4 linked regions of the Homo sapiens genome follow. The protein of the gene in region 1 interacts with the protein of each later gene in a biochemical or structural test. Each region holds a gene or a part of one and is shown in the gene's direction. Other genes may lie near its edges.

Region 1 (3,500 bases):
AGATATTAATGCAGGCTTAAGAGATGAAACAGAAATACCTGAACAATTAGTAAGTACATTGACTTAATATTTAATTTTAAAAGATATTTATAAGCTCTCTTCATGATGTGAATAAGGCATGTTCTAATTTTTGTCTCAAGTCTGTTTTTAATTTAGAATGCATTTTCCTGTAGACTTAATATTGTTAGTGATGGTTAGTTCCTAGACCCAGACCAGCTCATGCCCCATAACAAAAGAAGCTACAATATGGCCCTGAATCCCCTTTGATTCTTGAACCCTTCTGAGCCTAGACTTGTTCTTGACCTTGAGGAAGTTAGGAAAATTAAAGTAGCACAGCAAAGACGGAGTAGAAATTTAGCAGTTGGACAATTCTGATGGCAGCTTAGGGAAAAGGCTTGATAGAGAGAAGAGCCTAAGCTGTCATGGGATTTGCCCAGTTGGTAAACCTCTACTCAGTCTCTGTTATGCTACTTTAAAGCAATTTTTGGCTACATTATTTAGTTTTATTTTTGTATATAGGTTCCAATTTCTTCTCTATCTGAAGAGCAGTTGGAAAAGTTAATTAAGAAATTGAGAAAAGCAAGTGAAGGTAAGACTGCCTAAAGTTGCAAGTTCAATTATTTTAGAGTAATTAGGTGGTATATGAGTTGATACCATTCTGGTTTAAAATATGTTACTACTATTGTTCAGAATCCTACAATTACATGTTTGGCTGCTTAAGCTGTTGTGCTTATATTTGGCACAGGCTTGAATTCTACACTTAAAGATCATATTATGTCCCATCCAGCATTACACGATGCACTTAATGACCCTAAAAATGGCGATTCTGCAACCAAGCACCTGAAACAGCAGGTATGTTTAGGCTATAGTAACTACTAAACATGGCCTTTGTTCATTTGTTAAAACTGTTTTAAATGTAATTATTAATAAGATTTTATTTTGTTTACCTTTGAGGGTACCAAATATTTCCATTTCAAAAATATATAGAAACATATACAAAAAATTGAGGGCATGGATGTGATTCTGAGTACCGTATATTAAATATTTAAAGGCAAGAGAGAAAAATTTTAAGTCAAATACAAATTATCAATGTAAGCATACTGCCTTATGCAGAAATTACCTTGCTGTTTTCCCATTTGAACCAAATGTGTTTACTCTAGTTTATAAAATAATCTTGTGAAGTTTGCAGGCTTCTATTTTAGGTAACATTGAAAATTTAAAGTTACTTGGTCCAAGAAGATGCTTTGTTGAGTTTGGAGCGGGAAAGGGAAAATTATCTCATTGGGTTGATATTGCCTTAAAAGATGCTGAAAAAGTTCACTTCATCCTAGTGGAAAAGGTGACCACAAGATTCAAGGTAAGTGAAACCATTGCTCTGTGTTAGTAACCAAACTTGTTTTCATTTTTTGTATTCAGGAAAAAAGTGATAGAAACATTTCTTAAAAGAAAGGAAAGGAATTTTCTTTATCTGTTTGTTGTAGCTTTTTATTAGTTCTAATTGTATTGATAACTCAAACTGAAGGTGAATTTTTTAATCTAAGTTTTGATAGTCCATTGATCTGAATTCTTAAAATTATTTGCAGAGACAGGAAAATATATAGAAAGAGCCAAGCTCAAGCTAGGAGTTAAAAGTCTTGGGCTCTACTCCTATCTTTGCCACTTGCCCTTCATTCATTAAACAATTTTTGAGCATACTGCCAGGCCCCACCCAGGCTGAAGTACAGTGGCAGGATCGTGGCTCACTGCAGCCTTGACCTCCTGGGCTCATATAATCCTCCCATTTCAGCCTCATGAGTAGCTGGGACTATAGTCCCACGCCACCATGCCCAGGTAATTTTTTAAAATTTTTTGTGGAGACAGGGTCTCACTTTGTCGCCCAGGCTGGTGTCGAACTCCTGAGCTTAAGCCATCCTCCCACCTTACCCTTCCAAAGTGCTGGAATTACAAGTGTGAGCCACTGTGCCCAGCCACTTTATTACTTATATTTAGAAAAGAGACCCAGGCAAATACATAAATGATTGTAGTGAAGTGTTAAAATACGAGAAAGGTCTGCACAGAGTACAGCATGGTTTCAAAGAAGGGAGTGACAAGTTCTATTGCAGGGAAGAGATGGAGAATGACTATGTAGAAAAGGTGATGCTTGAACTAAATCTTGAAAGGTGAATTGGTGTTTGTTAGAGAGTTTGAGAAGCATTCTAGGAAGCAAGAACAGTGTAACCAAATACCTGAAATAACAGGAAAATATGGAAACATTCCTGTATAATGGGAGTACATGGTGCAAAGTAGAGTTCAGCAATGATGGGACTGGAGAGGATGGCTAGCCTATAGAAGGTCTCATATTTTATGCTAAGGAAGGAGTTTGACTATGCTGCTGTCTGGTGGGGATACAATAGAAAAAAGATTTAGTTCTTGGCTTTGAGGAAGCTTACGTCTAGTGGAGTAGACATATAAATATTTGTGTTCAGTATGCTAAGTGTGTTTTGATAGTGGTAAGTACCCAATCCTATGGGAGCATGAAGATAGAGCACCAACCTCAGTCTAGTGTGGGTCATAGAAGTTTTTGCAGAAGTGACAGTTGAGATGAGATTGAAATAATATGTAAGAGTTGGTAAAGTAGAAGGAAATTTTTCAAAGTTTATCCTAGCAGCACCATTAAAACTATATTAGAAGAGTCTGATACTTAGAGAGATTAATAATAAAGATAATTTTTGTCCAACAATCCAAGTAAGAAAGAGGCCAGAGCTAAAGCTATTGCATTGGGATGGAGAGGAGGGCAAGAGTATGAGAAATATTAAGATGTTGGAAGCCACAAGAGTTGGTGATTTGTTAGTAATTGAATATGAGAGATAAGGAGTAATTCTCGGTAGGATTTTTATGGCTTAGGTGACTAAGTGGTGTTCTTTCCTGAGATAAGGAATGAAGGAGGCACAAGAGGAAGGATGGTTTTGGAGACAGAAATAATGAGTTCAGTTCTGAATGTGTCCAGTTTGCTGGTGAAGTAGAGCTTTCTAGTTCACAATTGAGTATGTGTCTGATGCCCATTGGAGAGGCCTGAGCCACAAATGTAGATCAGCCGGTCGTGGGCACATAGGTATAGATTAGAATGGTTGTGATCTTTCAGGAGAGCAAGAAGAGGAGCGAACCAAAAATAGTACACCAGGAGTGACAAAGATAAAGGAGCTAGTAGACAATCTTAGATAAATCACTTAAGATCTGTGAACTTCAGTTCCTTTGTCAGTGAATTGGGAATTTTTAGGGTTAAAGGAAATAATGTCTATGTAATAATTGATAAACATTTTCAAATCTTTTTTAAAAAGTGTGATATTTTGAAGTTCTCATCAAAGAATGTACAATCTTAATTTTTAAATATGTTCTGTTGCTCTGAATTTTGAAAACCAATAAAAATCTTTTTATTTTCATAAAGCTTTTTTAAATGTAAGAAGTGATTATTACAATAATGTTCTGTTTGTGCAGGTGGATGGAAAACACAGAAAGAAAAA
Region 2 (3,500 bases), on another chromosome or scaffold:
AAGCCCCTCAAGGCCCGCAAAGTGCCACAAAGACATGAATTTTCTCTCCTTCATCACAGTGGCTTTTTCTCTTTCCCTTTGTCTCTTCCTCATTACCCATAGGGCTTTTCATTCTTGGACATGGAAGTAAAAATTAGTTTAAGATGCTGAATTCACAGCAATTATGTCATGCCCACCTCCACGGGTTTCCCCACAGGCTTCCTGGGTATTACACAGTACCTGATTGCCACAAGGTCTTGAGAATTGGGGTGGCCCGGACATAAGGGATGCTGCCATTGCTGTCTACCAACACTACTGCTCTGAACCAGAACCAGAACCAGTGCCTTTCATAGAAAAGTAAACCAAGAAGTGATGGATAGACAGAGATAGAGAACTCTTGAACAAAATTAATCAAAGCTATGCTTTGCCCTAGTTGTCTGAATCGCAATCATACACACTGACATCAAATATCTTATTAAAGATTTGCCTTTAGAACGTTCCATCAGAATGATTTGCAAAGCCATTGGGAAGAGATTTTTATGGGAACTTGATGTGCTCTATTTATTTAGAGAAAACGATGCTTTCCAAAGTTAAATGACCATATTGACAGAAACACAAAATAGAACCTACCGTTGGCCTCATCACTCATCCTGTTTCCCATGACTGAAATCAGAATGCAAATTTGTTGACATCTTTCTTTATGTTAAGCACTCAATGGGGCACTGGAGACATGGTGATGAATAAAACTCAGTTCTCGCCTTTATGAAACTCCCAGCCTAATAAGGAGGTCCAAGAGTTACCTGACATTTAAAGCTTTTGTTATCCCATGGTCAGAATTCTTCCCTTGCACATTAATTGTTGAAGATTTCCCCTGTAAAGTTATAGTCTAAAATTGCAATGTTAGTCTACGATGCTTCTATCATTAAAACTATACTTTCTCCCCAAGAATTTTTACACTTCTTTAATTGACCCACAGCATTTTCCTGATGAAGTAATACTAAACTAAAACCTTGAATGCGTATACCCTCTACATCGCTCAGGCTTTAGATAACTGGGGGTTAGTAATCAATCACCTTCATGTTTTTTGGCCTAGGCTCTGTACATTTCAGTAGTTTATTCAAAGGGAATCATTCTTTTCCTGAGTACAAGAAATAGTGAATCTGACTCCTCACTGACCAAACCCCTGACCAATGTGGCAGAGTCCCCTGAACACTTCTGGGGTGGCCATGGGTACATACCACTTAGGAGGAGCATCAAGGTCCACTCTCTGTACCCTTAAGAAGTAGCTTGGCATGGTGGCGCCATTCTGAGCCCAGGCCCTCCTTGGGACTGAGATAAGATATGACTTCAGCCTGAGGCCATTTCTCACACTTGAAAAAGTAAGACACTCCTATCCCCATCCCATTCCAGCTACCCAGCCTCCAAGGAAGTCATCCAACTTCGCAGCTATACCCACATATTGCTCAATTTCCCCAAATCAGTCTCATTATCAAAACAGTCGATCATATTAACTCTTCTTATGAAATTACCTCTCTTTCTGTGGTGCTGTGGCTGTTGAAGGAGGAAAACCTGGCATTGATAGACTATGAATGTGCTTCAGGGGTGGGTGGTGAGGATATACAGCAAAGGTGAATTGCCCTTTGGTTTCAGAAGTTACCTCATATTCCACTTCTGCTCCACTATTTCTTCTAGTAGACAGAAAGTTCTTTTCAACAGCCCTAACCTATTGCTGTTCCAAAGGTTAGTCAATGCAAAAAAAAATGCAGACACTTCCGGGTTTGCAGGTGAAATTGAGCTAATCCTCTGACCAATTAATTCATCAATTATATAAAATAGATGATTGAAAAAATAAATGGCAAAAACCAATTTACTTTCTATGGTTATTTGTTGACTTGAGGTCCACCCTGAGTCAGAAGGCTTGTAGCAGATGACATTGGAGGGGCTGACATTTTACTACTGTGTCTTCCTTAGTTCTCTATCTGAAGTTTCAACGCACAGTTTAGCAGCAATTATAACCAATGATGTAGGACACACCTCAATTTTTGATCTTCATTAATTGACCCACAGCATTTTCCTGACGAATTAATATTAGAGTAAAACCCTGAGTGTCCTGATGAAGTTTTTATATCATAAATGAAATAAGCATATACTTGCTTTTGAACAGTGTGCTTCTTGGGGAAATAAAATAGAAGATGAAATAAAAGGTACAGCAATTCTGATTATGTAGCAGCCATCTATTGAATTGGACCCTTTCCTTGAACTAAATGGCTTCCTTTTAAGTAGTAATGCTTGGTGTAGAGGCCATGGCATTCCATTCTCAATGCCAGACAGAAAGAAGTCTCACAGGTCATTGCCCTGCAGCAAATAGCTAGCAACCAGTTATTACTTAGAGTTATGACTGTGAAAATCTGATACTAAAATGGTGCTAAAGAGTTTTATGAGGATGAAGTTATTTTTGAATGGTTCAAGGAGAAAGAGCAAGGAGAATTAACTCTGAGCTGTGTCTGTTTCCTGTGTTTCAGAGCAGGGCTTGTCTCTGTAATATATGACTGTTAGTTCACTGTGGTTTTCTTTCCTTCTCTTCTCAGGAGGACAAGAAGACCTCATTCTTTCCTATGAGCCTGTTACAAGGCAGGAAAGTAAGTTTCCCAGCACGCTTTCATTCCTAATTTCTGGGCCATAAGAGGTGACATCATTGAAGGAGGGAAAGAGTGAAGGACTAAGGAGAATAAACTCGGCTTAATGCTCTGTTGTCTTGAGACCGTACCTTACTCTTACGCTGTCTCTCACTTTCTCTCTCTTTGACCCTATCACCAAACAGACAACTTCCTGCTGAGTATGGGCACTAATAGCACCTAAGAGAAGGATGCAGCCCTCCAGATGAGTGGTCCTCAATGGGAAGGAACACATTCAAATTACCTAAAGAGCACTAGCTACGAGACTGGTGAATAAATTCTCCTGAGAGACTGATGTCAGCTCAGTATTGAGAATGACTTTCTAGCAGATCTGCCTAAGATGTAGGCTATCTGTAAGCTGCTGCTTTTTCCTGGAGGCATTTATACAGAGGCTAATTGCTACTGACAAGGATACTGCAGAGAGAATTCAAGCATCAGATGGGGACTTGTACCCAATGAACTCTCAGGTTCCTTCTAATCCCAGATACAAGGAAATCTAGAAACTGTAGCAAAGTATAGAGAGTATTTTGATCTGGGGAAAAGAAATCATGAAAACATAAGATGTTATTACTACTAACAATTACTTTTTATAGTCATATCTAAACAATAGCCAAACAGCTGGTTTGGATTCTTTTTTCTCCCACTCAGTTGACTAAATTCAGTTGTTTTGACATTATGTAGGCAGAGCCAGAGAGTAAGCAAAACTCCTCCAAATGTTTCTTTTCATCAACAGATACTGCAATTGCCTTTCCCTGCTAGTAGATTCCAGAAAGTAGGCACTGCCAATCTCCTGAGTGTTAAACATCAATTTCCCTATGCAAGGCTGTATGAGTAATTTATCCAGTG
Region 3 (3,500 bases), on another chromosome or scaffold:
CGGTGGTGGGAAGTAGCTCTGGGTCTCAGGCCTCCTTTTGAAAGTTGGGGGTTTGGCGATGATTAAGTGCCATTTGGAGAATTGCTTTATCATGATGCACCTTACGTACGTGCAGACACAGACACACAGAATTTAGAGAAGAATGATTGAGTACCTATTAATTGCCACACACTGAGCTGGAAGCTAAAGATAAAAATAGAGTAGAACACCTCTCAGACCAGGCCAGTGGGGCCCTGACTACCTGAGAGGCAAATTCTAGACAAGCAGACACGAAACAGCACAGGGCAGCTACAATGTGTTCCCTCTTCTATAGATGAGGTCGGGCAACATTTGTCTTCCGGCACATGGAAGGCGAGACTGGTACTGAGACTGAGACTGAGACTGAGACGGGAGAGATGCAGTCACAGGCCAGGGGCACCTGCAGCCACCAGAGCTAGAGGAGGCAGGAAGGAGGCTCCCTGGAGCCTCTGGAGGAATTTGATCCTGGACTTCTGGCTTCCAGAACTGTGAGAAGATAAATGTGCATTGTTTTAAGCCACTAAGTTTGAGGAAGTGTTGTCATAGCAGCCGTGGGAAGCTAATCAGTCTTTTTAGGTAAGTAATATAGCTTTTAGGGAATATCTTCTTAGAAATGTAGGGAATTTGAGCCCAGAACCCCCAGGTTAGAACTTACCTAATTGCTAACATCTACTAGGTACTAAGAGCTCTTTGGAGGGCTTCGTTCCTTTAACACCCCTGGGGTACTGCTGATGCTCCCCACCTACACATAAGACTGTAGAGACGGCAGGTGAGGTGTGGTCCGCATGGTGGCTGCAGCCCCTGGGCGTCTGACTGTGAGAGAGATGTCTCTATCCCACGTGCAAAGGCTGAGAAATGGCCCCAAATGCGTTTCCTTTAAGTGGTTATTGCTTGTGAGACAAAAGGATAACAACAGGAATTAGGAAATCAGAATCAGGAGGAATATACAACTGTTTTCTTATAACTGAGGTTGTCATACAAAATGGGAACAGGTTCATAAGTCGAGTAGATGGCAACAGCTCATGCAGCCCCTCCCCACACACATAGCAGTGAAATGATGTTGAGATCATGCAGAGTACTATGTGATATTCTCCAGATTTGGTGCTTCAAGATGGATTTTTCATAAAAAGACTCTGCAAAGATATGACATTTTATTGAAGCTGAACTAGCAGAAGCTTTGTCAATTACCTACACTGTAATTGCTTTAAAAAGGAAAAAAAAGAAAACCTCTAAAGTCACCATTATCTAAATTGGGGTTAAGAATTTGAAAGGTATTGAGAACATGAATTTGTAACCAAAATACATTATAATCTAAATAAATGGTCTTTTTTTTTAAAGTGGTTCATTTGAAATCCAGAGAGATATGAAAAAAATTGTGTGGACTTCCAAATTATTTTCTATTTTAGCTTTCTAGATGTAGTACAGTAAAATGTACTATTTCTTACATAGTTTAATATTTTGATGTTAGGAGTTATAGTATCAAACATGCCTTATGACAGTCAAAATTTTGGGATAGTACGATATCTAAAACAATGATGCTTGGGTAAGAGTTAAGAAATTAGAACCAAACTCTGAAACTGCTAATAACAAAAGGTAATAAAGGATAAGGACTCACACACAGATAAGACCACTTTTTCTCTGTATATAAAATACATTTGTTCTTTGTAGCAACAAAATGAAATAGAACAAATTGTAATATATTTTGTAATGTATAACACTTATATAAGGTTTAATTATATTTAAAAAATTCATTTCTATGTTGAATAATATTGTAAATTTAGTAATCGAATAAAGAGGAAAATCTAGTAGCTGAAAAAAGGAAGTAAACTGAAAGCTTTCCTATCAGAACAAGATACAAACCCACTAGGAAACAGCTGCATATGTGAATTACGTGCTTTGTAAGCGCTGGGATGTAAATATTCTTTTATGCAACTCTTCCTTATTGAATTGAGGAGAGGACCAGCACAGATCTATGAAAATGCTATGAGCTTTATGTATTGCAATTATTTTCTTCCAAAGCTTTATCAAATTTTGTCGTGACCTACAGATTCTTTTGGTTTTAATCAGGGTGGAATCAGAATGCTTTTAGATTTGTAATTTCCATGTTGGCAGGAGGAAGGGAGTCAGGGAGGCCTGGAGTCGGGGGGAGGTCCAGGGTTCAGCTGTGCTAGGGTCGCCTGGTGCAGGGGGCTGCCTGGGGGTGTGGTGTTCCCGCAGTGGGCTGTGCAAAGTCTCAGGGCGGCCTTTGCTTTACTGGCCTTGGGCTGAATGGAGAAGGTGAACGGAGCAGACCAGTGTCACAGAATTGCATCGTGCAGGCCTTGCCTTTGTGACCCGGGGCTGGAGGCTGCATCTCGGGTGCCGCTGTGCAGATGGAGGGAACCTTTGGGGATGTGATTTGAATCTTCCTATCCCCTTCTTTGGAGTAAATACATTTCCTTTATTCCTTTGATGTTTGTATGAATAGTGGCATGGTATCCGTATCTCAGTACTGAAAGTGAATATGAGATGGAAAAATACAAGGAAGGAAAGTTCCTGTGACCTGGTCTATACCTATCTAGCAGCTCATAGATTTCCTTCTGGCTTTTTCTGGTGTATATTCTGTAAGTTAAACTCATCCTCAAGATAGAATTTTCTATCCTGCTTTTTAGAATTCTCATTATAAAATGATAATTTTCATAGTTTGCTAAGAAATATCCATCAATTACCATCATCCCCCTGCTTAAGGTTCTTCTGTATCAGTGGAGAGGCTTCGGGCAGGTGTTCCCGTAGGAGGGGGCTCTGTTAATGACACGGTCCTTTGCCCTTCTGTCTGGAAAGCAGCACCTGTCCTTGCTGCACTGGCTCAGGCGTCTGTGACTAGGGTGACAGTGTTGCTTAGGAATCCCAGCTGATAGCCAGGCCTGTTCCCTGGTAGGATCCCACAGTGGGGAATGCTGGGCTTCTGGGCCCCACAGTTCTCCCGAGAGCTCGGGCTGCCTGTTCTCCTTTGTTCTCTCCTTTGTTGGGAATGCTTCAGTGCACGATGCTTTTCAGGGTAGGGTCATGTGTGCCTTATTTTCTCATCGGTGAGATTGGATTCCTGTTGTCTCCCAGGTGAGCCCTGGAACTCAGGGTTCAGCTGGATGCAGACAGAGGACTCTGCCCTCGTGGAGGAGCTGGGAGCACGGTGAGCTCTGAGGGTTCCGGGGCACGGCTATAGGTTCTGAAGGGGGTGCTCCTACTGCCTGCTCATGGGAGCACGGTGAGCTCTGAGGGTTCCCGGGCATGGCTGTAGGTTCTGAAGGGGGTGCTCCTACTGCCTGCTCATGGGAGCATGGTGAGCTCTGAGGGTTCCTAGGTTCTGAAGGGGGTGCTCCTACTGCCTGCTCATGGGAGCACGGTGAGCTCTGAGGGTTCCCACGCACGGCTGTAGGTTCTGAAGGGGGTGCTCCTAATGCCTGTTCATGGGAGCACGGTGAGCTCTGAGGGTTCCCGGGCAT
Region 4 (3,500 bases), on another chromosome or scaffold:
GAGGCAGAGCAAAAGGACAAGGGTAAGTAAACCTGTAGGTCGGGACAAGCCAAGAGCCATCCAGCGTCAGTCCTCTCTGGGTAGCCCAAGTAAAGCAGGAGCATACCCCAGAGAGAAAGTTCGCAGGGCTGTTCACCTGCAGTGCTGTGGACTTCAACCTTCTTGTTCCTTCTTCAGTAAGTGAAAATAACAGTCATTGACCATGACTATTATCGACCGCTTTTGAAAATGTAAACATAGTGACTTTATTGCTGTAAAAATCATACGTGTTTATCATCTTAAAATTCAGGAAACATGGACAGGTACAAAGATGTGCAAAATATCATCCAAAATCCCATTTGCTGGCCAGGCACGGTGGCTCACGCCTGTAATCCCAGCACATTGGGAGGCCGAGGCGGGCAAATCACTTGAGGTCAGGAGTTTGAGACCAGCCTGGCCAACATGGTGAAACCCTATCTCTACTAAAAATACAATAATTAGGCTGGGCGCAGTGGCTCACGCCTATAATCCCAGCACTTTGGGAGGCCGAGGTGGGCGAATCACAAGGTCAGGAGTTTGAGACTAGCCTGGCCAATATGGTGAAACCCCATCTCTACTAAAAATACAAAAATTAGGGCCGGGTGTGGTGGCTCACGCCTGTAATCCCAGCACTTAGGGAGGCCGAGACAGATGGATCGCGAGATCAGGAGTTCGAGACCAACCTAGCCAACATGGTGAAACCCCATCTCTACTAAAAAAATACAAAAATTATTCGGTTGTGGTGGCACACGCCTGTAATCCCAGCTACTTGGGAGGCTGAGGCAGGAGAATCTCTTGAACCTGGGAGGCAGAGGTTGCAGTGAGTGGAGATCCCGCCGTTGCACTCCAGCCTGGGCGACAGAGTGAGACTCCATCAAAAAAAAAAAAAAAAAAAAAAAAATTAGCCGGGCGTGGTGGCGTGCACCTATACTCCCAGCTACTTGGGAGGCTGAGGCAGGAGAATCGCTTGAACCTGGAAGGCGGAGGTCGCAGTGAGCCGAGATCGTGCCATTGCACTTCAGCCTGGGCGACAGAGCGAGACTCTGTCTCAAAAATAATAATAATAACAATAACTAGCCGGGCCTGGTGGCACATGCCTGTAGTCCCAGTTACTCAGGAGGCGGAGGCATGAGACTCAGGTGAACTAGGGAGACAGAGGTTGCAGTGAGCCAAGATCACACCACTGCACTCCAGCCTGGTTGACAGAGCGAGACTCTGTCTCAAAAAAAAAAAATCCCATTTGCTCATTTTTTGGATACTAGTATAACTATCACTCTAAACCAGTTAGTACTTAAATCAAGCAGATATGGGAGATGGTGAATTACCATCTACAGTGTTGTCATATATGTCACATACTGAGCATTATCAGCTAGTAGAATCTAGTTAATTGTTCTATGTGTGATGTATGCAGAGTTCCCATTTTGAATGTGTTTTTACTATGCTTAAATAAATGACTGATGTCAGCAACCCCAAAATGATACATCTGATGTAAGAGCCCCTGTTCCCCAATAATAACATCTAAACTATAGACATTGGAATGAACAGGTGCCCCTAAGTTTCCTCCCTCCAGGGTTTCTTGGCCGGTCTCTGAGGACTACACATCCCTACTCCCGTCTTTCCTCATCTTCAGGCGCAGTAACAGTATCTCCAAGTCCCCTGGCCCCAGCTCCCCAAAGGAGCCCCTGCTGTTCAGCCGTGACATCAGCCGCTCAGAATCCCTTCGTTGTTCCAGCAGCTATTCACAGCAGATCTTCCGGCCCTGTGACCTAATCCATGGGGAGGTCCTGGGGAAGGGCTTCTTTGGGCAGGCTATCAAGGTGAGCGCAGGCAACAATTGCTTTGCTCTTCTGCCCCCAGTCCCTCTGTCACTGTCTTTCGGGGATTTCTCATCACTTGGCCCCACCCCACACCATGCAGGATGCCAGGCCTCCTTCCTGGCTTTGGGTGTTGGTGTGAGAGGTATCCTTCACCCCCACCCAGGCCACCTAAGGTCAATGTTGCTGTTACAGTGAGCTTGTGGACCTGGAGATCCAGGTTGGGTTGAGCTGTGCCTGTGGCCCTCCTGCCTCCAGTCAGTGGGTGTTTGTTAGGTGCCTGCAGACCTCAGTACCGGGCATGCTACAAGGAGCACACAGGGGAATGGCTCCTGCCTCCCTGGTGAACAGTCTCAGGGACTAACCTCTCTCTTTCTCTCCTCCTCCTCCTCTTCTGCTGAGAACTGGGAGGGGGGGTCAGGTAAGACGTGTGTCTCAGCTTGGGGGCAGCAGGGCTGGAGAGCTCACCCCCGATCCACCCAGCTCCCTGGTGCATGTCTTTGGCACTGACCTTCCTGCCCCCAGACTTCTGTTCACTCAGGAGACTCACTTCTATGCCAAATGACCAGAGCCCCTGCTTGGCTTGGCAGCATCCCCTCCTGCCTTCTTCCCCACTTCCCTTTTCTGGGTTCTTGCCTGTCCTCTGTGCATGCCCAGCTCTCCAGGAAAGAGGGTTTGCTTCCGTGTGAGTCCCATGTTGCTCCACGCTGCATCTTCCACACATGAACTCTGTCATTCTGACCCGGCTCAGTGTGCCCTCCAAGGGATGGGATGGCCAGCTGCATAGATTTTCTCAAACAGTTCTCCAGAACTTCCTCTGGTCTCAGCACCATTAACAGTCACCCTCCCTGTAGGTGACACACAAAGCCACGGGCAAAGTGATGGTCATGAAAGAGTTAATTCGATGTGATGAGGAGACCCAGAAAACTTTTCTGACTGAGGTAAGAAGATGGAGGGGGCCCGGGAGGTTGGTGTCACCATTGGAAGAGAGAAGACCTTACAAATAATGGCTTCAAGAGAAAATACAGTTTGGAATTACTGTCTTAAAGACTAAGCAGAAAAGAGCCCTAGAGGAATATCCCACTCCCTCTAAATTACAGCGTAATTATTTGTTCAATGAACACTTACTAAAAGCAACACAAACAGGGTACAAGGGATGCAGTAACAAAAGATACAGGGTTCAGAAGAGCTCTCAGGTTATGAGGATGATGGACATGAAAACACTCCAATTTAGTACAACTCAATGTTATAATCCTCACCTGAACGCCCTGCTAAGGGAGCCTGGAGGGGAGCTCCCTGAGCACTCACACTCCTTGGGCATTTACAGTTTTCACTACCCCTCCCAAGTTACTTCATGGAGTAACTTAAGTTGGGGACACCTGTGGTCTGGGTATTGCCCTCCAAGCCACTTGGCCACTCCCACCCCAGTTCTCCCAATGCAGTTCCAAGGGTAAGGCCTATGAAGCCATCTCCATCTATATGGTGGTGGTCTTCCCTCATCCTGATCTTAGTGCCCTGTCATATCACAAGATAGGAGGTAGGAGATACAGGTGGTAACACTTGTCAAGCTGATTCCTTGGAGGGAAGAGGTAAGGAAGACAGTGAGAAGTTAACCACCAGCTTTCCTTGGCTTCCCCCACCCCCAGGTGAAAGTGATGCGCAGCCTGG

Evidence for each region. Proteins that work in one complex are often made in the same cells at the same time.
Region 2: the proteins of TRMT13 (region 1) and DLG2 interact in a test that uses a peptide from one of them, tested with the Homo sapiens proteins (one large-scale study listed by IntAct).
Region 3: the proteins of TRMT13 (region 1) and SNTG2 interact in a test that uses a peptide from one of them, tested with the Homo sapiens proteins (one large-scale study listed by IntAct).
Region 4: the proteins of TRMT13 (region 1) and LIMK2 interact in a test that uses a peptide from one of them, tested with the Homo sapiens proteins (one large-scale study listed by IntAct).

Annotation. Positions count from the first base shown.
Region 1 is NC_000001.11:100,139,663-100,143,162, forward strand, and holds part of TRMT13 (tRNA:m(4)X modification enzyme TRM13 homolog), read left to right. Parts: coding exon 1-49; intron 50-519; coding exon 520-589; intron 590-745; coding exon 746-852; intron 853-1,189; coding exon 1,190-1,357; intron 1,358-3,474; coding exon 3,475-3,500. UniProt on the Homo sapiens protein: tRNA methylase which 2'-O-methylates cytidine(4) in tRNA(Pro) and tRNA(Gly)(GCC), and adenosine(4) in tRNA(His).
Region 2 is NC_000011.10:83,471,845-83,475,344, reverse strand, and holds part of DLG2 (disks large homolog 2), read left to right. Parts: intron 1-2,567; coding exon 2,568-2,618; intron 2,619-3,500. UniProt on the Homo sapiens protein: Required for perception of chronic pain through NMDA receptor signaling. Regulates surface expression of NMDA receptors in dorsal horn neurons of the spinal cord.
Region 3 is NC_000002.12:957,349-960,848, forward strand, and holds part of SNTG2 (gamma-2-syntrophin), read left to right. Parts: intron 1-3,500. UniProt on the Homo sapiens protein: Adapter protein that binds to and probably organizes the subcellular localization of a variety of proteins. May link various receptors to the actin cytoskeleton and the dystrophin glycoprotein complex.
Region 4 is NC_000022.11:31,264,298-31,267,797, forward strand, and holds part of LIMK2 (LIM domain kinase 2), read left to right. Parts: intron 1-1,648; coding exon 1,649-1,835; intron 1,836-2,686; coding exon 2,687-2,773; intron 2,774-3,478; coding exon 3,479-3,500. UniProt on the Homo sapiens protein: Serine/threonine-protein kinase that plays an essential role in the regulation of actin filament dynamics. Acts downstream of several Rho family GTPase signal transduction pathways.